Regions from separate parts of the Homo sapiens genome. Here all the other regions are linked to region 1. The links come from fine-mapping of genetic effects on gene expression. A gene starts in region 1. Each other region holds a variant in brackets. All regions are shown on one strand. Distances are from middle to middle.

Region 1 (4,529 bases):
CAAGTTAAATAAGCGAGACAGAGAGAAAGATACTGATGAGCTCACTTATACGTGGAATCCAACAGTCAAATCCTATCTAGAAACAGAGAGTAGAGTGGTGCTTCCTGGGGCTGGGAAAAATGGGGAGAGATATGTAAAAGGAAACACACTCGCAGTTATGTAGCATAAATATGCCCACAGATCTAATGTTCACAGGAGGACTGTTTATTATTATTGTTATTAATTTTTATTTTTATTTATTTATTTTGAGACGGAGTCTCCCTCTGTTCCCCAGGCTGGAGTGCAGTGGCGCGAGTGGCGCGATCTCGGCTCACTGCAAGCTCCGCCTCCCGGGTTCACGCCATTCTCCTGCCTCAGCCTCCCAAGTAGCTGGGACTACAGGCGCCTGCCACTATGCCTGGCTAATTTTTTTGGTATTTTTAGTAGAGACGGGGTTTCACTGTGTTAGCCAGGATGGTCTCGATCTCCTGACCTCGTGATCTGCCCGCCTCGGCCTCCCAAAGTGCTGGGATTACAGGCGTGAGCCACCGCGCCCGGCCTGTTTATTTTTATTTTTTGAGACAGAGTCTCACTCTGTCACCCAGGCTGGAGTACAGTGGCACGATCTCAGCTCATTGCAACCTCCGCCTCGCAGACACAAGCGAGTCTCTTGTCTCAGCCTCCCAAGCAGCTAGAAGTTTAAGAACTTTAAGTGGGGGACCACCTATACATAAACATGCCACCATGCTCAGCTAATTTTTGTACTTTTAGTAGAGACGGGGTTTCCCCATGTTGGCGAGGCTGGTCTCAAACTCCTGACCTGAGGTGATCCACCCACCTTAGCCTCCCAAAGTGCTGGGATTACAGGCGGCGCCAGGACTGTATTTCTTTTTTTTTTTTTTTTTTTGAGACGGAGTCTCTGTGTCGCCCAGGCCGGAGTGCAATAACACGATCTCAGCTCACTGCAACCTCTGCCTCCTGGGTTCAAGCAATTCTCCTGCCTTAGCCTCCAGAGTAGCTTGGACTACAGGCGTGCACCACCACACCGGCCTAAGTTTTGTATTTTATTAGAGATGGGGTTTCACCATGTTGGCCAGGCTGGTCTCGAACTTTTCACTTCAGGTGATCCGCCCGCCTTGGCCTCCCAGAGTGCTGGGATTACCGGCGTGAGCGACCGTGCTCGGCCGCAGGACGACTGTAGATGATATCGTATTGTGTGTTGAAATTTTGCTAAGAGAGTAGATTTTATGTACTCTTACCACACACACACAAAGAGGGTAGTCATTTCACAATGTCTCTATGAAATCATCATGTTGCACACCTTGTATACAACCAAAAATCAATTTTTAGAAATTGGTTTCAATCGTGTATGATATATATGTATATGCACATGTATATGAGATATTATGTATACGTATGTGTGGATATAAGACACATGTTTATGTATAGGTGGTCCCCAACTTAAAATGGCTCAACTTACAATTTTTTGACTTTGTGATGGGTTTATTGTAGCATTAAATACATTTTCAACTTACAATATTTTCATCTTACGATGGGTTTATCAGGACAAAGCCCCATGGTAAGTCCAGGAGCAAATATTTTTGCATACACAGGTATGTGTACATGATACATATTTATATGTATTGATGCTGTATCTATAGATGCATATGTGTGCTATGTATGAGGCAAATCTGCGCATGTCTGTGTACATGGTAAATATTTACGTCCGTCTGTGCGTGTCATAGACATAGAACAGGTGGGATGTAAACAGACGGGCTGGGCCTAGCTGCTCCTTTCCCGCCTCACTCGAGTCTGGCACCAGATTGGCCGCTCCCAGCCCGCTCCGGGTGCCGGCCCCTGCACCCCACCCTGCACCCCGCACCCTGCCCTGCACCCCATCCCGGCCCGTGCCTCGCACTCCACCTTTCCCGCACCCTGCCCCGCACCCAACACCTCCCGCGCCCCTCGCCGCGCTCCCCCAGCACGCACCAGGCCCCGCCCACTCCGCCGCGTGCCCAGCCCGCGTCACCGCCGTCCTCCCCAGGCTCCAGCGCGCCTTGCGGGGCCGCGCACGCTAGCGGAACCGCCGGGAAGAGCGCCGTGCCGTCAATGGCGGAGGCGCGCACGTCTGCAGGGCCGCGCACGTCTGCAGGGCCGCGCACGTCTGCAGGGCCGCGCACGTCTGCAGGGCCGCGCACGTCTGCAGGGCCGCGCACGTCTGCAGGGCCGCGCACGTCTGCAGGGCCGCGCACGCACTGACGGCTGACCGCCATCTTCCCTCCCGAGGCGGCAGTTCCAGGTGCAAGCGCCGGGTTTGCTGCCCGCTGGGCGCCCCTGCAGCGGCCCGAGCTGTGGCCGGCGTGGATGAGGGGCAGGCGAGGCAGGGCCGCCCCTCCAGTATTGCCGCCCCTCCCGCCCCAGGGCAGGGCTGGGAGGGTACAGCCCGGGGGCGGGCTCGGGTCGCCTCCCGGCCGCCGCGTCCTCGCTGCCCCGGGCCGGGCGGGCGGGCGCCGAGAGCCTCCCAGCCCGCCCCGTGCCCCGCCCGCCCGGCTGCTTCCGCGGCGGCGCTGCCCGCACATGGGCTAGGCTGCCAGGATGTTCAGCTTCGAAGGCGACTTCAAGACGCGGCCCAAGGTGTCCCTTGGCGGCGCGAGCAGGAAGGTGAGGGCCGGGCTGGCGGGGCGCCCTCGGCTCGGGGCCTGCGCGGCCGGGGCTCGGGGCTGGGACTCGGGGCTGGACTCGGGGCTGGACTCGGGGCCGAGACTTGGGGCTGGATTCGGGGCCTCCCTGGCGGGGACTCGGGGCTTCCTCGCCGGATCTCGGGGCCGCTCCGGCCGGGACTCGGGGTTGGACTCGGAGCCGAGACTTGGGGCCAGGACTCTGGCTGGGGCTTAGGACTGGACTCGGGGCCTCCCTGGCTGGAACTCGAGGCCGCGCCCGTGGGGGCCTTGCCTGTCCACTGCGCTTCGGGACCCGGGCGCGCTGGCCGTGGCTCCCTTCCATGCAGGAGGCCGGTGAACCCTGGCACGCTTTGTGCCACCCAAGGTGAACTTACCCTTTCTGGGTGTTTCCTTTCAGAAATGCGCTTTCCATGCTCGCTCCCGCATGGCATCAGGGAGTGGCTGCTTTTCGAATGCCACCTGAAGGGCGTTTTCGGTTGTAGAAGGTGAACGGCACGCATTTGCTGATGTCGATAATCTCTAAAGTAGAGGCAGAACGTCTCATGAATAGCCACGTGTTTGAATCCAAGACGAGGGCAATTATTTGCCACCAGCCTCCTGGAAACTGTGGAGAGACTCCGGACTTACATCTGTTGTGATCGACATTAAGTTGTTCGCATGGTAATTGTTTAGGATAAGGGTAGGCAAACCATGACGCCTCTGTTCTAGTCTAGAATTTCTAGCTGTCTGTCCCTGAAGACGGGCATCAGTTGGTTCACTGGAACCGCTAAGTCGTTGAACACTGTGTGGTCTTGTTCCCGCCCCTCCCTTCCCACCCCTTCCCATCATTTCTGAAATGTTCTTTAAAATGCTTCACCTAGTTTTTCTTGTCTATCAGTATATTCTGTATATCACAACCACCAGGTAGGCACATAACGCAGAGTGGGTGCTGGCAGGCCAAGGAGGAACTGCTGTTATTAAGATTGTGCTGTGGGGCTGTGTTTGGTGGTTTCTGAGGTTAGAAGGGAACCTGGGTAAAGAGTTGGGAGAGAAGTGTGCTGATAATTTTTCAGCTTTGAGGTTCGTGTGATGGTGATTGCTTGGAAGTCACTTGTGCTCCAGAACTAAGTACTGTGCAGTTAAGGGTGGTCGTGGTAGCACTTAGGGTCTTCCACGTTAATGAAAATGTTTTATGAGATCAAAGGATTTCTACAGTTAGGAGAGACTTCAGAGAATCTCAGGGCCAAATCGCCTTGCTTACAAGTTCGGAAGGTGAGCTGCAGAACATTTGAAGGAGTGCCCATTCACACAGCAAGCTAGTGGCAGACCATCTGAGACTCCATGCCATTTACACAGCGCCGCGCGGCCTCTGTTGCAGGCAGGAACACCCCACGGGCCACGGATGTTGGTCCCTTTTCACCAAGGAGTGCATCTCTGCTCTGAGGGAGTGAGATTTCTTAACTGTTGATCAGAATCTCAAGGGAAGATAGCACGAGCTGTGTAAAAGAATCACCCCTTTAAAAACAAAACTCTTTTTATTGAGGTATAACTTAAGATACAGTCAGGTTCACAAACACTAAAGAGATCCTTGTGCAAGTGAAATTGAGGAGGAAGGGCGAGAGGGAAGCTGGGTAGGGAAGGAAAAGGCGTCTCAGCTGGAGGCTAGCGTTAACCCCATCTCACCAGGAGCATGCTACAATTGGCCCTAATTGCGGCAGAGGGGTTGGTGGCTGCAGGCTGCTGCCCCTCCGGGATGAGGGTGGGAGTGTGGCACTGCTAACCCTGAGCCGAGGGCCATTCTTCTGGGAGAGAGTGGCAGTAAAGAGCCCTTAGTAGGAACTGGCAGCAGCTGGGGCATGGGTGCCCTGGCCTGGTTAAGGAATCTGGGTG
Region 2 (4,529 bases), 69 kb before region 1:
TTTTGTCCTTCATTCAGTTAACATGATGTATCACATTTGTTGATGAGGCAAACCATCCTTTCATTCCTGGGATAAATTCCACTCAATCATAATATAATCTTTGTGTTTGGTTTGCTAGTATTTTGTTGAAAATTTTTGTACCTATGTTTGTCAGGGATATTGGCCCATAGTTTTCTTTTTTGAGGGTGTGTCCTTGTGTGGTTTTGGTATCAGGATAATGCTAGCTTCGTAGAGGTAGTCAGGAATAATTTCCTCCTCTTCAATTTTTTGGAGTAGTTTGAGAAATTGGTGTTAGTTCTTCCAGAAAAGTTTGATATGCTGGTGTGATGGCTCATGCCTGTAATCCCAACAGTTTGGGAGGCCGAAATGAGAGGATTACTTAAGGTCAGGAGTTCAAGACCAACCTGGGAAACACAGGGAGGCCCTGTCTCTAAAAAAAAATCATTTTTTTTTTTTTGAGATGGAGTTTTGCTCTTGTTGCCCAGGCTGGAGTGCAATGGCGCGATCTCTGCTTACTGCAACCTCTGTCTCCCAAGTTCAAGTGATTCTCCTGCCTCAGCCTCCTGAGTAGCTGGGATTACAGGCGCCCGCCACCACACCTGGCTAATTTTGTATTTTTAGTAGAGATGGGGTTTCTCCATGTTGGTCAGGCTGGTCTCAAACTCCTGACCTCAGGTGATCCACCCGCTTCAGCCTCCCAAAGTACTGGGATTACAGGCGTGAGCCACCATGCCTGGCTACAAAAAAATAATTTAAAAAAATTAGCTGGATGTGGTGGTGCACTCCTGTAGTTCCAGCTACTTGGGAAGCTAAGGTGGGAGGAATGCTTGGACCCAGGGGTTTGAGGCTTCAGTGAGCTATGATCATGCCATTGCACTCCAGCCTGAATAACAGAGAGAGTCCCTGTCTCCCAGAAAAAAAAAAAAAAAATTGGTAGAATTCAGCAGCGAAGCCACCCAGTCCCGGGCTTTTTGTTGTTGTCGTCATTGGGAGGCTTTTCAATACTGATTCAATCATGATACTCATTATTTATCTGTTCAGGCTTTCTGTTGCTTCCTGGTTCAATCTTGGTAGGTTGTATGTGTCCAGGAGTTTATCCCTTTCCTCTAGGTTTTCCCATTTGTTGGCATATAGTTATTCATAATAGTCTCTAATAATTCTTAGCATTTCTGTAATATCAGTTGTAATATCTCCTTTTTTGTTTCTGATTTTGTTTGTCTTCTCTTTTTTCTTAGTTTGTCTAGCTAATAGCTTGTCAATTTTGTTTATCTTTTCAAAAAGCCAACTTTTCATTTCATTGATATTTTGTATTTTTGTCTCTATTTTGTTTAGTTCTATTCTGATCTTTTTTTTGGAAACAGAGTCTCACTCTGTTGCCCAGGCTGGAGTGCAATGGCACTATCTCAGCTCACTGCAACCTCCGCCTCAGTCTCCCATGTAGCTGGGAGTACAGGCATCCACCACCATGCCCAGCTAATTTTTGTATTTTTAGTAGAGACAGGGTTTTTCTATGTTGCCTAGGCTGGTCTTGAACTCCTCACCTTCAGGTGATCCACCCACCTTGGCCTCCCAAAGTGCTTGGATTATAGGCGTGAGCCACCATGCCCAGCCTATTCTGATCTTAATTATTTCTTTCCTTCTACTAATTTGGGGTTTCATTTGTTCTTGTTTTTCTAGTTCCTTAAGGTGAATTGCTAGGTTGTTTATTTGAAACCTTTCTCCATTTTTGATGTAGGCATTTATTGCTATAAACTTCCCTCTTAGTATTGCTTTTTCTGTATCCCGTACATATTTGGTATGCTGTGTATCTATCTTCATTGTTTTAAGGAATTTTTAAATTTTCTTCTTAATTTCATCATAGATGCATTGGTCATTGAGGAGCAGGTTATTTAATTTCCATATATTTGTATCATTTCCAAAAATCCTTTTGTTACTGATTTCTAGTTGTATTCCATTGTGTCTGAAAAGATACTTGATACAGTTTTGATTTTTAAAAATTTGTTGAGACTTGTTTTGTGGCCTATCATATAATCTATCCTGGAGAATGTCCCATGTGCTGATTAGAAGAATGTGTATTCTGCAGCTATTGGATGAAATGTTCTGTAAATGTCTGTTAGATCCATTTGGTCTAAATGGGTTTAACTCTGATGTTTCTTTGATGACTTTCTGTCTACACAATCTGACCAATGGTGATAGTAGGGTGTTAAAATCCCCAACTATTATTATATTGGGGTCTATTTCTTCCTTTAGCGCTAATAATATTGGCTTTATATATCTGGGTGCCCTGGTGTTAGGTGTAAATATATATTTATAACTGTTATATCCTTTTACTGAATTAATCCCTTTATCATTGTATAATGACCTTCCTTGTCTCTTTTTACATTTTTTACTTAAAGACTATTTTTTCCAAAATAAGTGTAGCTATTCATGCTAGCTTTTAGTTTTTGTGTGCATGGAATATATTTTTTCATCCTTCACCTTCAGTCCAT[A/G]TGTGTCTTTACAGGTGAAATGAGTTTCTTGTAGGCAGCTATAGTTGAATCTTATTTTTCTATCCGTCACCCAATCTATATCTTTTACTTGGGGGATTTAAATTGTTTATATTTAAAGTTGTTATTGATAGATGAGGACTTACTCCTGTCATTTTGTCAACTGTTTCCTGGTTGTTTTGTATACTTTTCTTCCTTTTTTCCTCTCTTATTGGTTATCTTTGCAATTTGATGTTTTTCTGTAGTGAAATTATTTGATTCTTTTATCTTTCTCACGTGTGTATCTGCTTTACTTGTGAGTTTTATATGTTTTCATGATGGTAGGTATTTTCCTTGTGTTTCCAGATGTAGGACTCTCTTAAGCATTTATTGTAGGATCAGTCTAGTGGTGATGAATTCCCTCAGCTTTTGCTTATCTGGGGAAGACTTTCTCTTTCGTTTTTGAAAGTTAAGATTTGTGACCGGGCGCGATGGCTCACGCCTGTAATCCCAGCACTTCGTGAGGCCGAGGCGGGTGGATCATGAGGTCAGGAGATCGAGACCATCCTGGCTAACACGGTGAAACCCCATCTCTACTAAAAATCCAAAAAATTAGCTGAGCGTGGTGGTGGGCGCCTGTAGTCCCAGCTACTCGGGAGGCTGAGGCAGGAGAATGGCGTGAACCCAGGAGGCAGCACTTGCAATGAGCCAAGATTGCACCACAGCACTCCAGCCTGGGCAATAGAGTGAGACTCCATCTCAAAAAAAAAAAAAAAAAAAAAAAAAAGTTAAGATTTGTTAGGTATAGTATTCTTAACTGATAATTTTGATAATTGTCATTGAAATTGACATATTAATCTGTCAGTATTTATTTATTTATTTATTTATTTATTTATTTATTTATTTGAGATGGAGTCTCACTCTGTTGCCCAAGCTGGAGTGCAGTGGCACGATCTCGGCTCACTGCAACCTCCACCTCCCAGGCTCAAGCAATTCTCTGGCCTCAGCCTCCCTAGTAGCTGGGACTACAGGCACATGCCACCACGCTCAGCTAATTTTTTGTATTTTTGGTAGAGTTGGTGTTTCACCATGGTGGCCAGGCTGATCTCGAATTCCTGACCTCGGGTGATCTGCCCTCCTCAGCCTCCTAAAGTGCTGGGATTATAGGCATGAGGCACTGCACCCAAGCTGTCAATATATATTAAAAATATATACTCAGCACTTTGAATAAATCATCCCATTCTTACCTGGCCTGTAAGGCTGCTACTGAGAAATCTGCTGTTAGTCTGATGGAGGTTTCCTTATATCTGACTTAATGCATTTTTCCTTGCATTGTCTTTTCTCTGTCTTTGACTTTTGACAGTTAGATAATAGTGAGGCTTGGAGAAGGCATTTTTGGGTTGAACCTGTATAGAAAATTTTGAATTTCCTGTATAGGAAATTTTGAATTTCCTGTATTTGGATGTCCATACCTCTCCTATGATTTTGGAGATTTTCAGTTATTATTTAATTTGTTTTTCCTATCTCTTCTCCTGTGGAACTCCCATAATGGAAACACTTTTTCACTTAATGGTGTCCCGTATGTCCTGTAGGTTTTTTTCATTCTTTTTTCTTATCTAACTGGATTATTTCAAAAGATCTGTCTTGAAGTTCAGAAGTTATTTCTTCTTGATCTAGTCTATTGCTGAAGCCCTCAATTGTATTTTTTCTTTCAGTGCCAGGAGTTCCATTTCATTCCTTTTCATGATAACTTTTTGTTAAATTTCTCATTCAAATTATGAATTCTTTTCCTGCTTCTGTTGAATCATCCGTGTTCTGTTAAATCTTGCTGAGTTTCCTTAAGATGATTGTTTTGAATTCCTTTCCAGGCATTTTATAGATTTCTTTTTCTTTGAAGTCAGTTACTAGAGGATTATTGTGTTCCTTTGAAGATATTCTGTTTCCTTGCTTTTTCAGGTTTCTTGTGTCCCTATGTTGATATCTGCACATCTGGTGGAACAGCCACTTCTTCCAACTTTAATGGAGTAGCTTTTGTAAGGAAAGATTTTTCCTGTAGATGTGTCC
Region 3 (4,529 bases), 81 kb after region 1:
ATACCTAATTTTTGTGATTTTTTTTTTTTGAGACGGAATCTTGCTATGTTTGCCCGTGGTGGTCTCAAACTCCCAGCCTGAAGTGATCTTCCTACCTTGGCCTCCCAAAGTGCTGGGATTACAGACGTAAGCCACCACACCAGTCCTTTATCCTTGATTTTCTAAAAGAACAGAGACAAATTTGAATATTACTAATACCTACATCTAAAGCAGATTCAGTAGTATGATACGTTAGTAAAAAATTTAAGTGGCCAGGCGCGGTGGCTCACGCCTGTAATCCCAGCACTTGGGGAAGCCGACGGGCAGATCACTTAAAGCCAGGAGTTTGAGACCAGCCTGGCCAACATGGCGAAACCCTGTATCTCTATTGAAAATACAAAAATCAGCCGGGCGTGGTGGCAGACGCCTGTAATCCCAGCTACTCGGGAGGCTAAGGCAGGAGAATCACTTGAACCTGGGAGACAGAGGTTGCAGTGAGCTGAGACTGTGCCATTGCACTCCAGCCTGGGTGATAAGAGCGAAATTCCGTCTCAAAAAAAGAAAGAAAAATGAAAGAAAATACAAATATTAGCCGGGCATGGTAAGTGTCCCCCTGTAGTCCCAGCTACTCAGGAGGCTAAGGTATGAGAATCCCTTGTGCCCTGGAGGCGGAGGTTGCAGTGAGCCAAGATCGTGCCACTGCACTGCAGCCTGGGTGACAGAGCGAGATTCTGTCTCCAGAAAAAACAAAAAATATAAGTGATGTTAACAGAGGGACATAAGGTATTTTCAGTTCTTGAGAAAAAGTCGTAACTGGATTCATTTCAGAATCTTGGGAGTAGGAGATGGAGTGGTGGAGGGTATAAAAGAAACCATGTCGGCTGGGCGCGGTGGCTCATGCCTGTAATCCCAGCACTTTGGGAGGCCAAGGCAAGTGGATTGCCTGAGCTTAGGAGTTTGCGACCAGCCTGGGCAACATGGTCAAACCCAGTCTCTACTAAAATAAAAAAATTAGCCAGGCACGGTGGTGTGCGCCTATAGTCCCAGCTACTTGGGACTGAGGCTGAGGCAGGAGAATCGCTTGAACCTGGGATGCGGAGGTTGCAGTAAGCTGAGATCACGCCACTGCACTCCAGCCTGGGCGACAGAGCAAGATTCCGTCTCAAAAAATAAAAAAAAAAAACCATGTCACAGAAATATTCGAGGAGAGAAAACAGGAGTGTTTCAGAACAATTTTATAAGCATGACTATGTCCTCATAAGATATTTGTGAGTTAAGCCTGTTGCATCTAACTCTGCCCACTGACAAGGTAGAGCAATGGTGGCAGATCCCCCAGCAGTGAACAGTTCTGGGGCCCAGGCTGGGGTTGCTTCACAGCAAAAGAAGCAGTCCTGGCAGGGTGCTTGGCTCCAGGTCTGGGGAAGACCCTGCAAGATGGGTGTGGAGTGCTCTGTCATGCTGGAGAGCGAGGAAGCTATTGCAGGGTGGCTGGGGCTGGGAGACAGGGTTAGGAGCCTGTCTCTAGCTGGTCATGGGCAGAAACTTGAAGCATTCATGAAAACAGCTAACTCTGAGTTCGCAAGGGTGCTAACAAAACCCTTCGTCATCATATTTGTAGGATGCAAAGGAACCATCTCATTATTTTGAATGCTGTTTTGAAAAAAAGAAGTACTCAAGCATTTAACCCACCTTTCATTTATAAACTGTACCTCAGGCAAAACAGATAGTGTGTGATCTTTTGCATAGAAGTATTCCAGCCAATACTACATGAAAAGGATTTTTGCAAACTAGAATCAGCCTGTTGCAGGCTCTGGTGAAGGAGATGACCAGGGCGGTGCCACTCCAGGTGCAGCGCATGTCTAGGGTCTGCTGGTCTGAGATGGTGTGTTGGCCTCCCAGGAGAGGAGGGTCTGGTCCCAGAATGCAAATAGCTGCACCTCTTCCTTACTCCAGAAAG[T/C]TGTGCGATGGGAAAATGTCAGCTGAACCCAGCAGTGTGCTTAGTGATTTAATTGATTTATATTTTGGCACAAGTCCCTTATCTCATCACCAGCTGGTAGTACGGTGCACACACCCACACTTGAAGTAGGTTTCACTTCTGCAGTGAAAAGCAGAGATGGGGCCTCTCAGTGATCGAGCATCCCACACCACCTAGGAAACGTTCTCGCCAGAAAGTTAAATCTAAATGTGGTGGAACCTCTACATCTAACTACAAAATTACAGGAAACATAGGGGTTAGAAGTACATCTTTAACAACACCATGAGGGTGCAATTAGCAAAATCTAGATTATGGGAAATTTTACAGGATGAAAGTTTCTTCATTAAAAATTGCAAGGGTGGCTGGGCACGGAGGCTCACATCTGTAATCCCAGCACTTTGGGAGACCGAAGTATGTGGATCACCTGAGGTCAGTTCGAGACCACCCTGGCCAACATGGTGAAACCCCATCTCTGCTAAAAATACAAAAGTTAGCCAGGCATAGTGGCATGTGCCTGTAATCCCAGCTACTTGGGAGCCTGAGGCAGGAGAATCCCTTGAACCTGGGAGGCAGAGGTTGCAGTGAGCCAAGATCAGGCCACTGCACTTTATCCTGGGTAACAGAGTGAATGAGACTCCATCTAAAAAAAAAAAAAAAATTGCAAGGGCCAGCCGGGTGTGGTGGCTCACGCCTGTGACCCGGGCACTTTGGGATGCTGAGGCAGGTGGCTTGCTTAAGCTCAGGAGTTCAAGACCAGTCTGGGCAAGATAGCAAAACCCCATCTCTACAAAAAGTACAAAAATTAACCAGGCGTGATGGTATACACCTGTAGTCCCAGCTACTCAGGAGGCTGAGGTGGGAGGATCGCTTGAAACCAGAAGGTGGAGGTCGCAGTGGGCTGAGGTCGCACCACTGCATTCCAGCCTGGGTGACAGAGTGAGACCGTGTATCAAAAAATAAAAAATTGTAAGGACCAAAAATAAGGGATGAGAGGAACTGACAGATGAAAAATAACTTGAGAAAATATACTGTGTCTGTTTTATTTGAATACTGCCTCAACCAAATTGAAAAAAAAACTAGAAAGTGAATTTTTGATAATAATAACTTAATTTTTAAAGTGATCTATTTTGCTTCATAAAGCAATTATATTATTTTACTATGTTTAGATATTATGCACCATCAAATAAAACAATTAGAGATTTCTTTGGGGCATATTAGAAAACATAGTTAACTGTAAAAGTATGAAAGGACAGCTAGCATGAGAGAGGACCTGAAAAGGTAAAGCAAAAGGGGACATGAAGGTATGAGGTCAGAGAGAGGGCCCAGCCCACGGTAGAGAAATGTCCAGCACCAATTCTGTTCAAGTGTGATCAGGTCAAAGTGTGTGCTAGAGCACAGGGGAGTTCTGAACCAGGATTGCCCCCGACAGGTCACTCAGCTCTATGTGCCAGCATCCAGACATGTGTGGAGGTTCCGGCGGATGGGGAGGATAGGCCCGCTGCAGTCCACCCTGGACGGTGAGTTCTCTAGGACACAGGGTTACTGAGGTATGAATTACATGCTGTCAAATTCACTCCTTTAATCTACAGATCTGTTATTTTTCATAAACTTATACAGCCATGTCACTCCCAGCAGGAGCTACCATGTAGAAAAGTTTCATCACCCACAAAATTGCCTCTAGCTCCATTGCGGCCACCTCTTCAGCAGCCACCCATTTCTGTTTTGTCCTGTCACTTTGCCTTTTGCAAAAGGCCTCCAAAGGGAACCATGCTGTGTAGTCTGCTCCTGGCTCCTTTTGGTCAGCACGCTGCATTTGAGGGTGCTGTGTGGGTTGATTGTTCCCTCTGTTGCTCAGCAGTATTCCAGTGTGGGGATGCACCACAGTTTGTGAATCCATTCATTGGTTGAAAGACATTTGGTTATTTTTTCTGTCTCTGGGAATACGAGTACAGCTGCTATAAACATCTATGTACAGGTTTTTCTGTGAACATACATTTTGTTTGACATGGAGTAAGTTTCACTGGGAGTAAGAATCCTGAGACATTTGGCAAGTTTATGTTTAACTTGATGAGAAGCTGCAGAACTGTGTTCCAGGGTGGCTGCACGGCTTTGCATTCAGACCAGCAATGAATGAGAGCCTCTGTTGTTCCCAGTCCTCATCAGCACTTACAGTTGTCATTTAAAAAAAAAAAATTCTATGGGCCAGGCGTGGTGGCTCTCGCCTGTAATCCCCAGCACTTTAGGAGGCCGAGGTGGGCGGATCATCAGGTCAGGAGTTCAAGACCAGCCTGACCAACATAGTGAAACCCCGTCTCTACTAAAAATACAAAAAACTAGCTGAGCGTAGTGGCGGGCACCTGTAATCTCAGCTACTTGGGAGGCTGAGGCAGGAGAATCGCTTGAACCCAGGAGGTGGAGGTTGCAGTGAACCAAGATCACACCACTGCACTCCAGCCTGGGTGACAGTATAAGACTGTCTAAAAAAAAAAAATTTGGCCATTGTAAAAGGTGGGAAATGGTATCTTCTTGTGGTTTTAATTTGTGTCTACCAGCCGACTAATGATATTCAGCATCT
Region 4 (4,529 bases), 100 kb after region 1:
ATGCATGCTGAAATTTGAGAATTACTGGACAATGGAAATACAATAGGATTGCCAGTTAGTGTAGGGCCCACTTGACGTTAATATCATAAAGTGAAGTGAGACCAGCCGTGTGGGTTACTTTTTCTACACCCGTAAACGGCTGTGTGGGTCTGACTAGGATGTAGAGTCAGATTTAACCAGGGGTGGGGTTTTTTGCCAAGTGACTATAATAAAGGGTGAATTGGTTGCAAGTTCAGAGTGGTTACAAGAGCCTGCCTTTGAATCTAGGCTGTTTAGAGAGGAAATTAATCCGTGAATGGAGATTTGAGGGCAAGGGAAGCTGGACAGGAGAGGAGACCTGTGGAGTCGAGGTCCTTCAGGGAGTCAGTGTAGCGGTGGTTAGAGCTAAGATCAGAGGGGCTTAGTTACCGGTAATGCCACTTGGAGGACAGAGCTGAAGGAACTGGTAGCTAAGGTGGAGTTGAGGGACAGCCAGGATGGTAGAATGACAGTCAACTGTGTGCTACAGATGTCACCAAAAATTATCACCAGAGTGTGTTGGACTCTCAGGAGCTAAAATCTTGAATTAAGGGGCAGTGACTGAACCCGGGAGAGGTAATGGATGCGCAAGCCCAGTGCATGAGATTGAAAGCCAGGGATTTTAGCGGGAGGGAAGGGAAGGATGGTCTGGAAGTGGCAGTAAGGAGCACAGGGGGCCTACCTCCCTTCTGTGCCCGGTGGTTCAAGGGTGCAAAAGAGACCACAGCTACTCACGCAGAGTGCTCTGAGGATCACAGAGCGCTGCAGGGCATGTGGGAAAATGGACTGCTGAGTGTCGCAGCATAGTCAGGAAAAAATCCCGTCTTAGCTGTGAGACCAGGAGCACAAAAAACAAAAGGAAAAATGAACTGGACTTAAAAATGTTTATGCTTCAAAAGACACCATCAAGAAACTGAAAATACAACACACTGAAAGAGAAGATACTTGTGGCATATATATGAAGGACTCCATGATAAAAATGGGCGAAGGATCCAATTGGACATCTCTCCAGGGACTGGCAGCAAGCAAATGGGCCATTGGTTCGTGCAAAGATGGCCAGCATCACTAGTCATCAAGGAAGGGCAAAGCATAGCCACAGGCTGCCGCGCACACCCGCGAGTACGGCGGGAATCAAACCAGGAACCGCAGGGTTGGTGAGGATGTGGAGGAATCAGTCCTCATGCATTGCCAATGGGAAGATAAAATGGTGCAGCCACTTTGGAAAAGTTTAGCAGTTCCTCAAAAGGTTAATTACCTTTGGACCCAGCAAACATATTTACCCAAAAACTTGCACACAAATTCTCACAACAGCATTATTCCTAATAGCTAAAAGATGGAAATGACTCAAAGGCCCATCAGCTGACAAACGGGTAAACAGAATACGGTTCATCCATACAGTGGACTATTACTGGGCCGTAAAAAGGGGTAAAGCACTGACACATGGCACACATGGATGTGCCTTGAGAATGTTCTGCCCGGTGAGAGCAGATGCAGAGATCACCAAAGACATGGTTCCATTTATATGAAATGTCCAAAACAGGAAAATCTAGAGACAGAAGGTGGGTGAGTGATCGCCAGGGCTGGGAGGAACCAGGAGTGGCAGCTGAGGGATGTGGAGTTTCTTTTTAGAATAATGAAAATCTTCAGAAATTGATTGTGGCGATGGTCATACAACTTTACGAATATAATAAAACCTTTGAATGTAAGTTATGTGGGTGATATCCCAGTAAAGCTGTTACAAAGGAATCGTGCGGTAGGTAACGTGGTGACTGAGAGAGCCAGTGTCACAGAAGTTAGAGAAAGCAGCAGTCAGTATCAATCGGAGTTCATGGATGCTTTCGTTCTAAAGCTGGAAGGAGTATAGTGATTAGAGCATGAGCTGTTGTTAGGGAAACATAGTACCTGATGGTAACGAAATCTGTTATCATCGAAGGCATCATTGTCCTCAAATTTCTCAAGAGGTGGCTCGACAGATTTCTAGTCTGATATTTTATTCTCCTATATGGCAAAAGTAGAATTTTGAAACTTGAAAGATGTTTTCTTCTAATTGTTGAAAATAGTTCTTGGTTATGTGGGGTACCTTGAGACTGAGCCTGAGTTGTTTTTTTTTTTTTTTTTTTTTTTAAATTCCTACTGTCTTTCAGAAGCAGGAGTGTAAAACTGTCCTCAGATGCTCAGATGTTTGCTTCTTGTCAGTGGAAGTGGGAATATGGGTTTGCTACTTTAGCGAACTTCCTTGTTCATGAAGATGTTTTTTATCTTCTAGAAATATTTTGGTGAGCAGGGTCAGGGGTTTCTGTGTTTTGGAGCCTGAACCTGGAAGCCATAGAACTAGAAGTCGAGGAAAAAAAGGAAGG[G/A]TCGAGCCAGGTCTGGTGGCTCAAGCCTGTAATCCCAGCACTTTGGGAGGCCAAGGCGGGAGAATCACGAGGTCAGGAGTTCTAGACCAGCCTGACCAACATGGTGAAACCCCGTCTCTACTCAAAATACAAAAATAAGCTGGGCGTGGTGGTGGTTGCCTCTAATTCCAGCTACTTGGGAGGCTGAGGTAGGAAAATCGCTTGAAACCGGAAGGCAGAGATTATGGTGAGCCAAGATTGTGCCACTGCTCTCCAGCCTGGGTGAAAGAGGGAAACTCCATCTCAAAAAAAAAAGGAAGCGTCAACTCCAAGCTGCTCAAAATGTATCATATTGTGGCTCGATCGCTGGAAGCCACTATGAGGAAAATAGGACAGGAGATGTGCACGTGTCCTCCACGGTCCCCATCCCCCATCCTCTGTGCCCTGCAGGGCTTCCGAAGTGAAAGCCGAGTTGGAGATGAGAAGGGCAATCTCTGCAGGCTTTCCTTGTCTTTATGGAGTGCCAGGGTCTCAAGGAAGAAAAGGTACGAGCACTGTGAGGCCTCGGCAGCTCTGCATGCTGGGGATTTGGGCAGCCTCTGTAGAGAAGTAAGAGTGCAGCACCCGTGTCCTGGTGTGGTGGTTCAGGATTTGCAAGGCAGAGTTGCTCTTTTTCTCTGAGTAACAGCTAGTGGGCTCTGCTCAGTTATCCGTGGTAGACATCTGCTGAATGAGGAGTGAGTTCACCTCAGCTCACGTTTAGAGATTGGCTTTAGGGCACCTGCCAGTGGAGTATTAGAGTGAGGCCCACGGCCTGGCCCCTCCCAGGGAGCTTGGTGTCCTCCTGCTGCTGTTCCTGCATGTGAGGCGCAGGGGACACTGGGACAACACGGATTTTTTAGTGCCAGGGTAGCTGTGTAGACCAAGTGTTGCGGGAGTTGATGGTGTAGAAAGCTCTCTGGAATAGGATTGTGAAGATCTAGGACTTGAAATGGGTGTTGACGTATACATAACCTGAAACCCACAATCCGAAAACTCTTAACACAAGAATGAAAGGGTTTTTTTGCAAACAGATTCATGAATGCAGAATTCCAGTATGTAATGTGGTCCCTGACATATAGTTGGCACTTAATAAATGTTTGTTACATGAATGGGCACCATATGTTGTATTTGGACTCTTGCATTAAAGATGAGGTATGTTGCCAGGCGCGGTGGCTCACACCTGTAATCCCAGCACTTTGGGAGGCCGAGGCGGGTGATCACCTGAGGTCAGGAGTTCAAGACAATCCTGGCCAACGTGGGGAAACCCTGTCTCTACTAAAAATACAAAAATTTGCTGGGCATGGTATGCGCACTTGTAATCCCAGCTGCTCGCGAGGCTGAGGCAGGAGAATCGCTTGAACCCAGGAGGCGGAGGTTGCAGTGAGCTGAGATCGTGCCATTCATTGCGCTCCAGCCTGGGCGATAGAGTGAAACTCCGTCTCGAAAAAAAAGAAAGAAAGATGAGGTATATCTCCTGCCCCCTAGGAGTTTAGAGTTAGTTACACAAGCCCCTAGTGGTCCCAGTGACTGAAGGGACTTTGTTTTTCAATTCCAACTTACTAATTCTGAAGCACAATTATTAAATAGCGTGTTGCTATTAGTATACATTCTTATTTTATGTTTCTTTTTTGTTTTTTAAATTATATGGTTAATATGATATGAAATAATTAAAATTATCTGCTTGCTCAGTTAGGATGGCTTTAAAGCAAGACATCATCTCTTATATAGTTTTTAGATTAAGTTATAAATGTTCACTTTAGAGCTGCCTGAAGATTGATAGAGATGCATTTGAAAAGCATTATTTTTTTATTGATTCTTAATGTAGTAAATTACTGAAGTTATTTGGCGGCAAACAGAAATGGTCTGTGATGTGGTTCACATTTATTCTGATAGAGCCACAATTTGCATTAATTGCGTCGCGACTGCACTCACTTATATTAAAAGGCTTCTACTATAATTAATCCTTTTTATTTCAAATCATTTTGGCACAATTTCTAGCTATAAACATTCATAAAAGACAGACAGTTGAAAAATTCGTTACAGGTCTTTTCCATATACCTATTGCTATTTTTTTCATGACAAGTAGTTATTGATATGCTTCTAGGAACAAGCGTGGTACAGCTGGCTGAGAAG
Region 5 (4,529 bases), 130 kb after region 1:
TCTCACTGCAGCCTGCAACCTCTGCCTCCTGCCTCAGCCTCCCGAGTAATTGGAATTATTACAGGCATGCACCACTACAGCCGGCTAATTTTTTATTTTTAGTAGAGATGGGGTTTCGCCATGTTGGTCAGGCTGGTCTCAGAAATCCTGACCTCAGGTGATCCACCCGTTGTGGCCTCCCAAAATGCTGGGATTACAGTCATGAGCCACTGCTCCTGGTCACGTAATTTTTAAATATAATTTTAGCTGTATCTTGTGTTCAGTTTTCTAGGCTACCTTTTTCACTCAACATTACATCAGGATCATTTTTCCTCATGTTATTCTTTGAGATATTTTTAATGGGCTTGTAGTGTCCCATCATGTGATTTACCAGTTTACTTTCTGTTTTTTAGTTGTTTACAGCTCTTCCTTCGTTGTGATGCTGTGAACCTCTTGTGCATAAATTATCATGTGCATCTCTAATTATTTCTTAGAGTACAGTCCCAGGAGTTGTGAATGTGGGTGAAGCCCCTGCTCCTGCTGCCAGGCCCACCTCTCAGAGAGTTTCGTGTACACGTGTGCAGGGAAGGGCTGACCTAGCTAGGTCTCTGAAACCCGTGCCAGATACTAAATCTGCACAGGCTGCGACAGTGAGCAGACTGAGGGCGATCTGTGCCTTATTGTCTTCCTGTTGGAAGAGAACACATAAATCACGTATCTCAAATGTGAGGCAAATAGCTAATGGTGTTTGTGTATACGAGGAAGGTGGAGTCACCGGTTCTTCGTGGCCATCAGAGGACCGACACGCCCATAGGTCTCATGCATTAAGTCTGCGTTGAGCAATCCCTAACACGGTTTTTGCCTACAGATACATTTGCACAACTGTGAAAACCAGGTACGTATTCATTGCATCATTTTTTGTAAAAAGCTGAGAGAAGTGCCCAGCAACACGTCGTGCCGCGCGTGTGCATGGAACACCATATAGCCTCACCATTAATAGGCAAGATGAGCGAGACCCATTATCAGATGAGAAAAGCACGGCACGGAATACTGTGTCCAATGTGCTCACCGTCTCAATTTTAAACCTAAAGGAGGGAGAACATTTTCTCATGCGTGCATTTCATCTCTGGGAGCACTTAAGACGCTGAAGCGTTGGTTGCCAGTGGGAATGGGAACTGGGTATCTGTGATACAGGGATGAGAATTTTCACACTGTACCTTTAAATACCAGAACGTCATGAACACATCTGAAAAACAATATTCAAATTTCCCTGATCATCTTTCTTTTTTGTTAACAATTATTTAAATTCTGGCACAAGCAAGCCACTTTTCATCATGCATTTGGTCTATAGATGTTCTACCTCCCTCAATTTCGTCTTGTAATTTAATGAATAGGGGAACTGGGGCCGGGCACGGTGGCTCACGCCTGTAATCCCAGCACTTTGGGAGGCTGAGGCGGGTGGATCACGAGGTCAGGAGATCGAGATCATCCTGGCTAACATGGTGAAACCCCGTCTCTACTAAAAATACAAAAAATTAGCCGGGCGTGGTGGCGGGAGCCTGTAGTCCAAGCTATGCGGGAGGCTGAGGCAGGAGAATGGCGTGAACCCGGGAGGCGGATGTTGCAGTAAGCCGAGATTGCACCACTGCACTCCAGCCTGGGTGACAGAGCAAGACTCCGTCTCAAAAAAATAAATAAATAAAAATAATAGGGTAACTGGGTTGCTTCTTTGTATCTCTTGAAAACTGATAGAGGTCTCATCAGATTCTAAATTTGAATTTTTCTTTTTTTGGCAATAACATCACATAGGTAATGTCGTATGCTTCCCATTCCCTTAATCATCGTGGAGATCCACTTCTCGTGAGTCATCTCCCCACAATGCTGGGATCGATCTCTGCGTCAGAATTCCTCTTGATTTTAGTGGTCACTTATCACTGCCTAGATCCATTGTTTAATGTGCTTCTAAAACAGCCGTGTTCTAATTACATAATTGTATAATTTATTAGCTGGAATTTTCTATTTAAAAACAGCTTTGTTTCTTCTCACCAATGATTTGGTTAACCCGAGTAATAGCTTGTACAGGAAAGATAGAATAAATCTTGATCCTTTTTAAAAAATTTTTATAGACAGGGTCTCACTGTGTGTTGCCCAGGCTGGAGTGCAGTGGTGTGATCATACCTCACTAACCTCGACCTCCTGGGCTCAAGACATCTTTTCACCTCAGCCTCCCAAGTAGCTGGGAGTATAGGGGCAGACCACCACACCTGGCTAATTGTTTTGATTTTTATTTTTAGTGGAAATGAGGTCTCGTTATGTTGCCCAGGCTGGTCTCGAACTCCTAAGCTCAAGCCATCCCCCAGCTAGGCCTCCCAAAGTGCTGGGACTACAGGTGTGAGCTATGCGCCTGGCCTGGAATGTTATTTATCCCTTTTTATGCCTGAAGCACAGTGCATAATCTTTTATGTAAGTTAGAACTAAGCCATCAATGTAATTTTTTAAAAAAGCAAATGTGGGCCAGGCACGGTGGCTCACGCCTGTAATCCCAGCACTTTGGGAGGCAGAGGTGGGCAGATCACAAAGTCAGGAGTTCAAGACCATCCTGGCCAACGTGGTGAAACCCCTTATCTAGGAAAAATCCAAAAATTAGCCAGGC[A/G]TGGTGGCAGGCACCTGTAATCCCAGCTACTTGGGAGACTGAGGCAGGAGAATCGCTTGAACCTGGGAGGCAGAGGTTGCAGTGAGCTGAGATGGCGCCATTGCCCTCCAGCCTGGGCGACAGAGCTAGACTCCATCTCAAAGAAAACAAACAACAACAACAAAGCAAATGTGGTTTCGGGAAAATGTGACTGCAATGGTAACTTTACTGATTGGAGCAGGCACATTTTGTGTACTTTGTATTAAAACTCATGTAATGCCATGCTTGTTACAGTGACATCTTGCACACATGCTGTTTTTCAGGAGTTGTATCCCGCATTTTGTATTCACAACGGAGGCTCCGACCTTGAGCGGCTCCCCACAGCCAGCACCTGCATGAACCTGCTGAAGCTCCCCGAGTTCTATGACGAGACACTTTTGCGAAGTAAACTTCTCTATGCGATTGAATGTGCCGCTGGCTTTGAGCTGAGCTGAAGCTGATGCTGGGGTCAGACCCCTACAGAGAACCAGTGCTTCCTTCGTCAGCAGCGCCTCCCCAGACCCACGAGGATACTCACACTGCACGCCTGAGGCTCTCCTAAGCTCCTTCTTTCATTCTGCCATTCCTCCCTCCCTTCCTTTTTTAAATGATTTTTATTACGGTGTGGTCACTTATTTAGATGGACATTGCTTTTCAAATAACTTAAAATAACACGTTATGTGCCATGTGGCTACTTTAGTAATATTGCCAAGAAGAGCACAGTTTTTACACTAGTGGCATCTCAGTGAAATTAACCAAAGATGAAGCTTTGGCTTTGCTGGTGAGATCAGAGCCCTCCTGAGCAGGCAGCGCCACTCCAGGGTTCAGACAGGGCTGCACAGGCGGCAGAGATACAGGGTCTGAGGGCTGAGACGCCATGGGGCCGCTGCTGCTTATGTGGTTGGATTGTTTACAAGCCTCATTATTAAAACTGAAGGCATTTTTTTTTTCTGCTGCCTTTCCCAAAGTGGTTAGGTTTGGAAAAGAGATGATGATGGTAATATTTTATTTGTGCTTTTTAAGCCATTTCCCCAAATGGGACTAGCATGCTTGTTTTCAGTATACCGTGGCCTGCCTCATGATGGTTTGGAGATACTGTCTGTGGATGTGAGGTGGGGACTTCATTCATTGTCCTATTTCTATCTCCACTTTGTGCCTGGAGAGCTTTCAGGGGAGGTGGAGGAGGAGGGTCTGCCAAGCTACTGCAACATCTGTCACCCACTATACCCAGTTACTTGGGGGAGGACAGACACTGTGGTGTCATTAAAGTTGTTTGAACCAAAGTGGCGGCTGCATCTTTGTCCCGATGCTAGCCGTGCCGGTCTCCCATCATCCGCTCGCCCTCCTTTCCCCTGGGCTGCGCCCACTTGTCTTCCTGGATATTTGGGGGTGACTCGCCATGCTTGGCACCCTCTGCTTCCTGGTGCTGCTCTGACTCGAAGACGGGACAGTCCCTGGTGCACATCCAGGGAAGAGGAGTGTCGGTAGTTCTTGCAGTAGGCACTTTATCAGGACCTGACCTGTTGCTGGGTGATTTTAGTCTCTACAAACAGAAAGCGTTTCAAAGCGTCAGCTGTGGGAGCAGAGTGACCCTTTGCTGATGCTGGGGGGAGGGGATCTAAATCCTCATTTATCTCTTCTATGTCTCGTATTTTACTGTCACTGGAGGCTCTGTGGGCTGTCATAGTTAATTGACCATAATTAGCAATATACTTTTAAAGTGGGAAAGCTGAATGACACTTTTAAGACAATGAACATTATCAAAACAAAATGTATAATTTCTTAATTTGAATAATAAATTAAGCGTTTAAATGCTATTTGTAGTCTTGATATACAGAAATAAAATAATTAGGGTTGGTCTTTTTTATTTTAGGTTGTT
Region 6 (4,529 bases), 28 kb after region 1:
ACCAAAAATGTCACCAGAAACTACCAAATGTCCCAGGGAGGGCACTGCTCAACCAAGAAAGATATTTGTTGGTTGGTGTTTTTAATCTTGTTTTATGGAAAATTCTCGGCCATTATCTCTTCCATTAGTGCTTTTGCTTCATTCTTCTCCTCCTCTCCTACTTGGACGCAAACTGTAAATGTTTTTGACCTTTGCGTCGTTTCCCATATTTCCCTCATGTGCTTTTCTCTGTGTTTATCCTTTTGAATATCTCTGCTTCAGTTTGGATATTTTCACCTGACCTAATTTCTGATTTACAGCTGATCTCTTTAGCATTGACTTTTTTTTTTTTTTTTTTGAGGTGGAGTCTCACTTTGTCAACCGGGCTGGACTGCAGTGGCACGATCTCAGCTCACTGCAACCTCCGCCTTCCAGGTTCAAGCGATTCTCCTGCCTCAGCCTCCCGAGTAGCTGGGACTACAGGTGCACGCCACCGCACCCAGCTAATTTTTTGTATTTTTAGTAGAGATGGGGTTTTGCCATGTTGGGCAGGCTAGTCTTGAACTCCTAACCTCAAGTGATCTGCCTGTCTCAGCTTCCCAAAGTGCTGGGATTACAGGCGTGAGCCACCCTGCTGCCTAATTGTTAAATACATCCATTGACTTCGTAATTTCAGTTTTTGTTATTTCAGTTCTAGAATTTTCTTTCATTCTTTTATATAGTCTTTAGTTCTCTTTTAATTTCTTGAACATAATTATAGATTTTTTAAGACAATGTTTAAACTCCAGTAATTGGATCTTCCGTGGGGTTTGTTTCTATTGTTTGTCTTCTTGATTTTTAATCTGATGGGGTTTCCTTTATAGGTGACTAGCTGCTTTTCTTTTGATGCTTTTAGAATTCAGTCTTTATCTTTGACTTTAGATAGTCTGATTATTTGCTTGGAGATCGTTGAGTCTGCTGTATGTAGGTGTCTAAATCTCTTGTGAGACAGGAAGTTTTCATCTATTATTTCATTAAATAGGTTTCCTAATCCTTTCTTTGACTCTTTGACCTTGGTGTTACCAATACTTTGAATATTTTATTGCTTTATGTTATCCCAAATGTCATGAATGCTTTGCTCATTCTTTTTTCTGTATTTTTGTCTGGCTGGATTATTTCAAAAGACCTGTCTTCAAGTTCTGAGATGCTTTCTTTTGCCTGATTAGTCTGTCTTGAAGCTTTCAAATGTATTTTGTATTTCTTTAAATGAATTCTTCACTTCCAGAATTTCTAGTTGATTCTTTTTAAAAATACTTACTCTTTGGTAAGTTGCTCACTTATATCCTGAATTATTTTTCTGACTTCTTTGTATTTTTCAGAATTCCCTTGTATCTCACTGAGCTTTAAAATCAATATTTTGAGGGCTGGGCGCGATGGCTCACGCCTGTATTCTCAGCACTTTGGGAGGCCGAGGCAGGCCGATCACCTGAGGTTGGGAGTTCGAGACCAGCCTGACCAACATGAAGAAACCCCATCTCTACTAAAAATACAAAATTACCCAGGCATGCTGGCGCATGCCTGTAATCCCAGCTCCTCGGGAGCCTGAGGCAGGAGAATTGCTTGAACTCGGGAGGCGGAGGTTGTGGTGAGCTGAGATCACGCTGTTGCACTCCAGCCTGGAGTGAAACTCCGTCTCAAAAAAAAAAAAAAAAATCAATATTTTGAATTATTTGAGATTTTCAAAATTTCTATTTGATTAAAATCTATTGTTGGAGAATTATTGTATTCCTTTGGAGATGTCGTATTTCCTTGTTTTTTCATGTTTCCAGCATCCTTACATTGCCATGTGCATCTGGTGAAAGTCGCTTTTTCCTGTTGGTGGTGGTGGTGGTGGTGGTGGTGGT[G/GGTT]GTTTTTGAGACAAAGTCTTGCTCTGTCACCCAGGCTGGAGTGCAGTGACATGATCTCAGCTCACTGCAACCTCCACCTCCTGGCTTCAAGTGATTCTCCTGCCTCAGCCTCCCAAGTAGCTGGGATTACAGGCGTGCACCACCATGCCCAGCTAATTTTTTGTATTTTTAGTAGAGATGGAGTTTCACCATGTTGGCCAGGCTGGTCTGGGACTCCTGACCTCAAGTGATCTGCCCACCTCAGCCTCCCACAGTGCTGGGTTTACAGGCATGAGCCACCATGCCCGACCTCACAGGATTTTTTTATAACCATTTCAAGCCCAGGAACTACATCTACATGACCTGATGGTGTTCTTGAATCCCACAGTGTGTGTGTTAGTCTCAGCTTTGTAGATGGCATTCATAGAAGACATGAAACAAGGTAGTATGGTGAGATGGAGTACAGGCTTTATTATCATACCTGAGTTTGAATTCTGCTTTACATCTTTGGGTGTTGCTTAATTTTTATAGCAGTCTCAGTTTCTGCATCTTTAAACTGGAAGTGATGCTCACCTGTAAGATGACTGTGCATTTGTATATAAAATGCCTCTCTCTCTCTCTTTTCTTTTTTTTTTTGAGACGGAGTCTCACTCTGTCACCCAGGCTGGAATGCAGTGGCGCGATCTCGGCTCACTGCAAGCTCCACCTCCCGGGTTCACGCCATTCTCCTGCCTCTGCCTCCTGGTAGCTGGGACTATAGGCACCCGCCACCATGCCCGGCTAATTTTTTGTATTTTTAGAAGAGGTATGGTTTCACCATTTTAACCAGGATGGTCTCGATCTCCTGACCTTGTGATCCTCCTGCCTCGGCCTCCCAAAGTGCTGGGATTACAGGCATGAGCCACCATGCCTGGCCTAAAGTGCCTCTCATAGGGCTGGCACATAGTAGTAGGCTGTCCAACAGCAGTAGCACTGGTCATAACAATGATGAAGAACGCATATTTTTGCCAGGTCGCTGAACATTTTAAAGATACTCTCAAGTCAATGAAAATTGGAATTTTCTCTTGAAACAAGAAAGTGACCTTTAAAATAGATGCTGGTGTTGTCTGCTTGTATTCCTTTAATATTTAAAACTTTAAAAAGTCCTGCTAGCCGGGCACGGTGGCTCATGCCTGTAATCTCAGCATTTTGGGAGGCCAGGGCTGGAGGATCATGAGGTCAGGAGATCGAGACCATCCTGGCTAACATGGTGAAACCCCGTCTCTACTAAATATACAAAAAATTAGCCAGGTGTGGTGGCGGGTACCTGTAGTCCCAGCTACTCGGGAGGCTGAGGCAGGAGAATGGTGTGAACCCAGGAGGCGGAGCTTGCAGTGAGCTGAGATCAAGTGGGCGACAGAGCAAGACTCTGTCTCAAAAAAAAAAAAAAAAAGGTCCTACTATGCTGGTGAGATTGTAAAATGGTATTGCCATTTTGGAAAACAGTGTGGCAATTCCTCAATGATAACTCTACTTCTAGGTTTATGCTCAAGAGAAATGAAAACCTGTATCCACAACAAAACTTATATATGAATGTTCATAGCAGCCTTAATTCATAATAGACCAAAGTGGGAGCAGCCCAGATGTCCATCAGTAGATGAATGGAGGAATTCAACGTGGTCCATCCATACAATGGAACATTACTCTTACTTAGCCTTAAAAAGGAATGAAGTTCTCACATATGCTGTAACATAGGTGGATCTTGAAAACATCATGCTAAGTGAAGAAAACCAGACACAGCATATTGTATGATTCCATTATATGAAGTGTCCAGAATAAGCACATCCATAAGATAGAAGTAGATGAGTGATTGCCAGGGGCAAGAGAAGGGACGGCAGGAAACGGGGGGTGACTGCGAATGGAGACGGGGCTTCTGGTTGTGGTGATGAAGGTATTCTAAGATCAGTGGTGATGGTTGCATAGCTCTTAATATATTAAATGCATATTTAGTGGGTGTTACCTTTTAAAGAATGAATTTTATGGTATGTGAATTACATAGCTGTTAGTGTTTTTAAAGTCTTTACTAGCAAAATGTCATTTTCACTGGATTCTGACCAATTGCTCCCTCACTCCTCCTTTTATTGTTTAGGAAGAAAGGCGAAGGTTGAAAAATGCAATAATTATCCAGTCATTTATTCGAGGCTATAGAGACAGAAAACAGCAAGTAAGTTTGTTTTAAAATGAGGAGATTAGTAGGGCATGGGAGAGCTTATTTTAAATATGGTATCTTTGTACACCTTGTTAATTGAAGTCAATGCTGACAGTAGTATTCTTCCCAATAAATAATTTTATTTGTTCTAATTATTGTGAAGATTTATAGATAGGTGAGTTTTTAGGTAATTTTTAAATAATAAAATACAAACATGGGCCTCACCACAGTTGAAAATCAAAATAGAAGGAAGTCATGAGAGATCCTTTTTTTTTTTTTTTAAATTGAGACTGAGTCTCACTCTGTTGCCCAGGCCAGAGTGCAGTGGCATGATCTCGGCTCACTGCAACCTCTACCTCCTGGGTTCAAGCAATTCTACTGCCTCAGCCTCCCGAGTAGCTGGGATTACAGGCATGTGCCACCACGTGCAGCTGATTTTTGTATTGTTAGTAGAGTCGGTGTTTTGCCACGTTGACCAGGCTGGTCTGGAACTCATGACC
Region 7 (4,529 bases), 140 kb after region 1:
CAAGCAATTCTCCTGCCTCAGCCTCCCACATAGCTGGGATTACAGGCACCCGCCACCACGCCCAGCTAATTTTGTATTTTTAATAGAGACAGGATTTTGCCATGTTGGCCAGGGTGGTCCCAAACTCCTGACCTCAGGCGATCCGCCCACCTTGGCCTCCCGAAGTGCTGGGATTACAGGCGTGAGCCACTGTGCCCAGCAGAAATGTTAAAGTTTAACATCCCATTGCCTTAGTTCCTCAAATGTTACACACACAGCAGCAAGCCAGCAGTTTCTACTAGGTTTACAGTAGAGAAGGGAAACCTGGCCAGGCACCCGAGCTCATGTCTGTAATCCCAGCACTTTGGGAGGCCAAGGCAGGTGGATCGCTTGAGGCCAGGAGTTTGAGACCAGCCTGGGCAACATGGCAAAACCCCATCTCTACAAAAAATAAAAAGGTTAGCAGGGCATGGTTGGTGCACGCCTGTGGTCTCAGCTACTCTGGAGGCAGAGGCAGGAGGATCGCTTGAACCCAGGAGGTCGAGGCTGCAGTGAGCTATGAATGGCACCACTGCACTCCAACCGGCCACAGTGTGAAACTCTGTCTCAAAGAAAAGTGAAAACCTTTGTCCACACACAGACTTGTACACAAATGTTCATAGCTGCCTTATTCACGATCGCCAAAGGATGGAAACACACAAGTGTTCATCAGCTGAGGAAGGAATAAACATTATGTGGTCCCTCTGTGCAGTGGAATAGGACTTGGTCGTAAAAAGAAGTGTGGGCCAGGCGCGGTGGCTCACGCCTGTAATCCCAGCACTTTTGGAGGCCGAGGCGGGCAGATCACGAGGTCAGGAGATCAAGACCATCCTGGCTAACACGGTGAAACCCCGTCTCTACTAAAAATACAAAAACAATTAGCCGGGCGTGGTGGCGGGCGCCTGTAGCCCCAGCTACTCAGGAGGCTGAGGCAGGAGAATGGTGTGAACCCAGGAGGCGGAGCTTGCAGTGAACCGAGATTGCGCCACTGCACTCGAGCCTGGGCGACAGATTGAGACTCTGTCTCAAAAATAATAATAATAGTAAGTAAAAGGAAGTGTGATACACAGCAGCATGGGTGCGCCTCAGGGACGTTAGATACAAAAGGACACATGCTGGGTGACTCCTTGACCTGAAGTGTCCAGCACAGGCACATCCCCAGAGGCGGGGTGCAGACTGGTGCTTGTTAGGGCTTAGGAGGGAAGAGACGGGCACTGACAGCTGATGGGTACAGGGCTTCTTTGGGGGCTGACGAGAATGTTCTGGAATTGGTGGTGGTGGCTGCACAATCTTGTGAATATACTTAGAAATAGGAAACTGTACACAGCTGGCCCTTGCGTAACACGGTCTGAGCTGTGCAGGTCCACCAAAGCGTGGGTGGGTTTCTTTTTTTTTCTTTTTCTTTTTTTTTTTTTTTTTTTTTTTGAGATGGAGTCCCAGCCTCCCGAGTAGCTGGGACTGCAGGCGCCCACCACCACGCCTGGCTAATTTTTTTGTATTTTTAGTAGAGACGGGGTTTCACCGTGTTAGCCAGGATGGTCTCGATCTCCTGACCTTGTGATCCACCCGTCTCGGCCTCCCAAAGTGCTGGGATTACAGGCGGGAGCCACCGCGCCCGGCTACATGGGTGGTTTTCCATGAAAGCTGCCCTCTATTGAGAGGCCAGCCTCTCACCTCGCCTTCCGCCTGCCCTTCCTCCTCTAGCCCACTTTATTGTAAGAATACAGCATATGATACGTAACATAGAAACCATGTGCTAACCACTGTTGATGTCACCAGTTGGTTAGGCTTCTGGTCACCAGCAGGCCGAGTTACATTTTTGGGGAACACTGCCTAGTTCAGAGGAAAGACTGGAGTTGGAAATTCTGTCAAACCCATTTGAAGAAGCTTGGAATTTTCTAATTTGGGGGTGTATTTACCTTATTTCATTCTTACCTTTGCTGAGGCTTCCAGTTCAGAAAGAATGGGCCTGGGGCGGTCTTTATCTTCCCCCAGGACCCCCAGTCGAAGGATCCCTTCCTTTGAGGTGGGGCCCACATGGATCTGCAGGGGCCTCCCCTCCCTGCAGCACCCTCGCCCCCCTCCCCTACTCAGGGGCCCCTGGGACCAGAGACCTCAGCCCTAGGGACACCCTGGTGGGCCTGTGCTGCCACCGAGGCCCCTCTCCTCTCTCCGGGGCTGACCGCGGTGGCCGTAGGGGCCTTGCCAGGGTCTGCAGATTCAGGGGGCAGTTTCCTGTTCTGCAGCAGAAGGCGTCCTTGCACAGTCCCCGTGCAGCAATGATGTGTGTGTGAGCACAGGCCCTGGCCACTGCGGGGCAGGCAGAG[G/A]GAGCCGGTTCTCCACCTGCCCAGCTGGGACCCCAGTGTGGGACCTGTTTCCTGATCCGCCGCATCTGGGGCTGTCACCTGCAGCTCAGACTGTGGTGCCCGCGGCCAGGTAAGGTTCACACATTATGTTCACATCCAGACCCCACAGATGTGAGGGGCCCCAGCAGATGTTCTGCACCAAGTAAGGGATGAACAGACAGGCCCAGGTCCAAGGCCTCCTGCCCCCTCTCTATTGCCCCCGCCTGGTCTTGCTGAGGCTCCTAAATGGGGTGACAAGGGCAAGGCCAGGACTCCCAGCCACCCTTACCACCCTGTGCCCTGACACCCAGCCAGCTCCTCACCTAAGACCCATCCAACATCTTGGACTATCATTCAAGGAGGAAAGACACCTTGATCCATCTTCAGAGTCCCAACATTACTAAGACAGCCACCTAAGACACCATGAAAGGAAGGCTGGTCACAACAAGGACTGATGAGGCAGGAAGTGCCTGATAAATTCACTCAGAATGTGGTCATTGCTTCCTGGATACAATGAAGTCAACACTGAAAACTCACAGGAGAGAAGTCCCCCTGGAGGGAGCCTCCCCTGTCTACTGGGGGGACTGTTTCGCTGTAGCAGTGTGGGGCCATCCACTCCCTGCTTCAGGGCTATCCCCCGTCTACTGGGGGGACCATTTGTCTAACGGGGCAGCATCACCCACTGCAGGAATCACCCCTGTCTACTGGGGAGACCGTCCCCCGTTCAGTCTGGGGCCTCAGCCTCTGAGGCAAGCAGGGGAGAACCGGGCAGAGTCTGTTGACTTCGGATGGTCCTAATGGCCTCAGTTTCTGAGCAACTCCTTTCTGCGTCTCCCCACACCGGCGCTCCCGTTCCTCCAGCCAGGCTCCCGTGTGTCCTCCTGGTGCCTGTCCTTCCCCCGGGTGTGGGCTCCTTCGCAGGCGCTGCCCACCCCCCACCTCCTGCAGCCACTCATGGCCGGCTCTGGGCCCTGGATCCCCGGAAGGCACACACATTGAGGAAGAGGCTGTGTCTCCTCTCCCCTCCCCTTGCCGGGCTGCTGGGGGCAGTCCTTGGCCGGCTGCCCATCTGTGCCATCGTCTGCACAGAATGGAAAGTGAGCGTCTGTCATGCTCAGTAATTCCATGTCTGTTGAATCTAATATCAAAAGATCTGGGCATCTGTGCTGTGTGTCTGAGTTTTTTCATTTCATTTTCTAGTGATGAGTGTTGAGTGCAGGTTGCCACATACAGAGCAGCGAGACCGCTGGACTTTCGCTCTGCCCAGTGCTTGGTGGCCCCCCAAGGAATGTGTTAAGTGACCTCCTTTATTTTTATTTTGTTTTATTTTTTGACACAGGGTCTCCCTCTGTCGCCCAGTCTGGAGTGCAGTGGTGCGATCTGGGCTCACTGCAACCTCCATCTCCTGGACTCAAGCGATGTTCCTGTCTCCGCCCCCCGAATAGCTGGGATGACAGGTGCGTGTCACCGTGCCCAGCTAATTTTTGCATTTTTTGTAGAGACGGGGTTTCACCATGTTGCCCAGGCTGGTCTTGAACTCCTGACCTCAAGTGATCTGCCCGCCTTGGCCTCCCAAAGTGTTGGGATGACAGGTGTGAGCCACCATACTGAGCCGAAGTGACTTCTTTTCAAGGAGGTTTCTAGGGGCCTGGAATTGCTTTTCACAGGGGGATGGGGACTTGATTTACTCCTGAAAGGGTGAGGGGCGATGGTGTCCCCCTCCCCAGGTCACCCCTTGAGCTGCCATGGGCTTCCAGTGTGCAGGAGCCTTTGGGGACAGGAGACAAGGACAAAACACTTGCCTTAGGGGACCCTTGAATGAGGGCTGTCACTGGCTTAGGTCACCTGGGGAAGCTGCTTACCCTCAGGTGGGTGCCTGGAGTCTCATTCAGGGAAGGGCAGAGCCTAGGGTGGGGGCGCACCCTCAGACAGTGCAAGGGATCTGCAGGGATGTCAGAGGCTCTGTCCCAGACAGACAGGCCCACAGGTGGGCACCACACCAGGGCCACCACCCTAGCCCCACAGCCAGGCCACCCCCAGATGGGCAGCCTGGGCCCATCTTGACGCTGTCAGCTCCCATCCAACTCAGATGCCCGCCCCCCCTCCAGGGGAAGCAGGGAACCCTCGTGTGGGTGGAAGCTCCTGTTCCTTTAGAATGGAGATTGC

Direction of the effects. Alleles are on the strand shown, and positions count from the first base shown. SD is a standard deviation of normalised expression in the study named. Not every link is listed here.
As copies of A replace G in region 5, the expression in testis of the gene that starts at base 2,228 in region 1 goes up (small effect, 0.24 SD a copy in GTEx).

Evidence for each region.
Region 2: its variant is fine-mapped to the expression of UBE3C in whole blood (INTERVAL, PIP above 0.99).
Region 3: its variant is fine-mapped to the expression of UBE3C in whole blood (TOPMed, PIP above 0.99).
Region 4: its variant is fine-mapped to the expression of UBE3C in whole blood (TOPMed, PIP above 0.99).
Region 5: its variant is fine-mapped to the expression of UBE3C in testis (GTEx, PIP 0.96).
Region 6: its variant is fine-mapped to the expression of UBE3C in whole blood (INTERVAL, PIP above 0.99).
Region 7: its variant is fine-mapped to the expression of UBE3C in whole blood (INTERVAL, PIP 0.90).

The regions. Positions count from the first base shown.
Region 1 is chr7:157,136,699-157,141,227 of GRCh38, forward strand. It overlaps UBE3C (ubiquitin protein ligase E3C), which reads left to right and starts at 2,228. Exons shown (of 23, transcript NM_014671.3): 1 at 2,228-2,640. The coding sequence starts at 2,575. RefSeq lists silencers at 1,720-2,069, 2,350-2,739, 2,790-2,859.
Region 2 is chr7:157,067,396-157,071,924 of GRCh38, forward strand. No RefSeq gene overlaps it. Among named protein-coding and RNA genes, the nearest start is that of MNX1-AS1, 59 kb to the left of the region's middle. The variant A/G (reference allele first, on the strand shown) is at 2,490.
Region 3 is chr7:157,217,306-157,221,834 of GRCh38, forward strand. UBE3C (ubiquitin protein ligase E3C) reads left to right here. Exons shown (of 23, transcript NM_014671.3): 15 at 3,384-3,471. Among named protein-coding and RNA genes, the nearest start is that of UBE3C, 81 kb to the left of the region's middle. The variant T/C (reference allele first, on the strand shown) is at 1,937.
Region 4 is chr7:157,240,396-157,244,924 of GRCh38, forward strand. All of the region lies in intron 18 of UBE3C (ubiquitin protein ligase E3C), which reads left to right. Among named protein-coding and RNA genes, the nearest start is that of DNAJB6, 94 kb to the right of the region's middle. The variant G/A (reference allele first, on the strand shown) is at 2,376.
Region 5 is chr7:157,264,651-157,269,179 of GRCh38, forward strand. UBE3C (ubiquitin protein ligase E3C) reads left to right here. Exons shown (of 23, transcript NM_014671.3): 23 at 2,935-4,529. The coding sequence ends at 3,105. Among named protein-coding and RNA genes, the nearest start is that of DNAJB6, 70 kb to the right of the region's middle. The variant A/G (reference allele first, on the strand shown) is at 2,633.
Region 6 is chr7:157,165,079-157,169,607 of GRCh38, forward strand. It overlaps UBE3C (ubiquitin protein ligase E3C), which reads left to right. Exons shown (of 23, transcript NM_014671.3): 3 at 3,970-4,044. Among named protein-coding and RNA genes, the nearest start is that of UBE3C, 28 kb to the left of the region's middle. The variant G/GGTT (reference allele first, on the strand shown) is at 1,863.
Region 7 is chr7:157,274,000-157,278,528 of GRCh38, forward strand. No RefSeq gene overlaps it. Among named protein-coding and RNA genes, the nearest start is that of DNAJB6, 61 kb to the right of the region's middle. The variant G/A (reference allele first, on the strand shown) is at 2,346.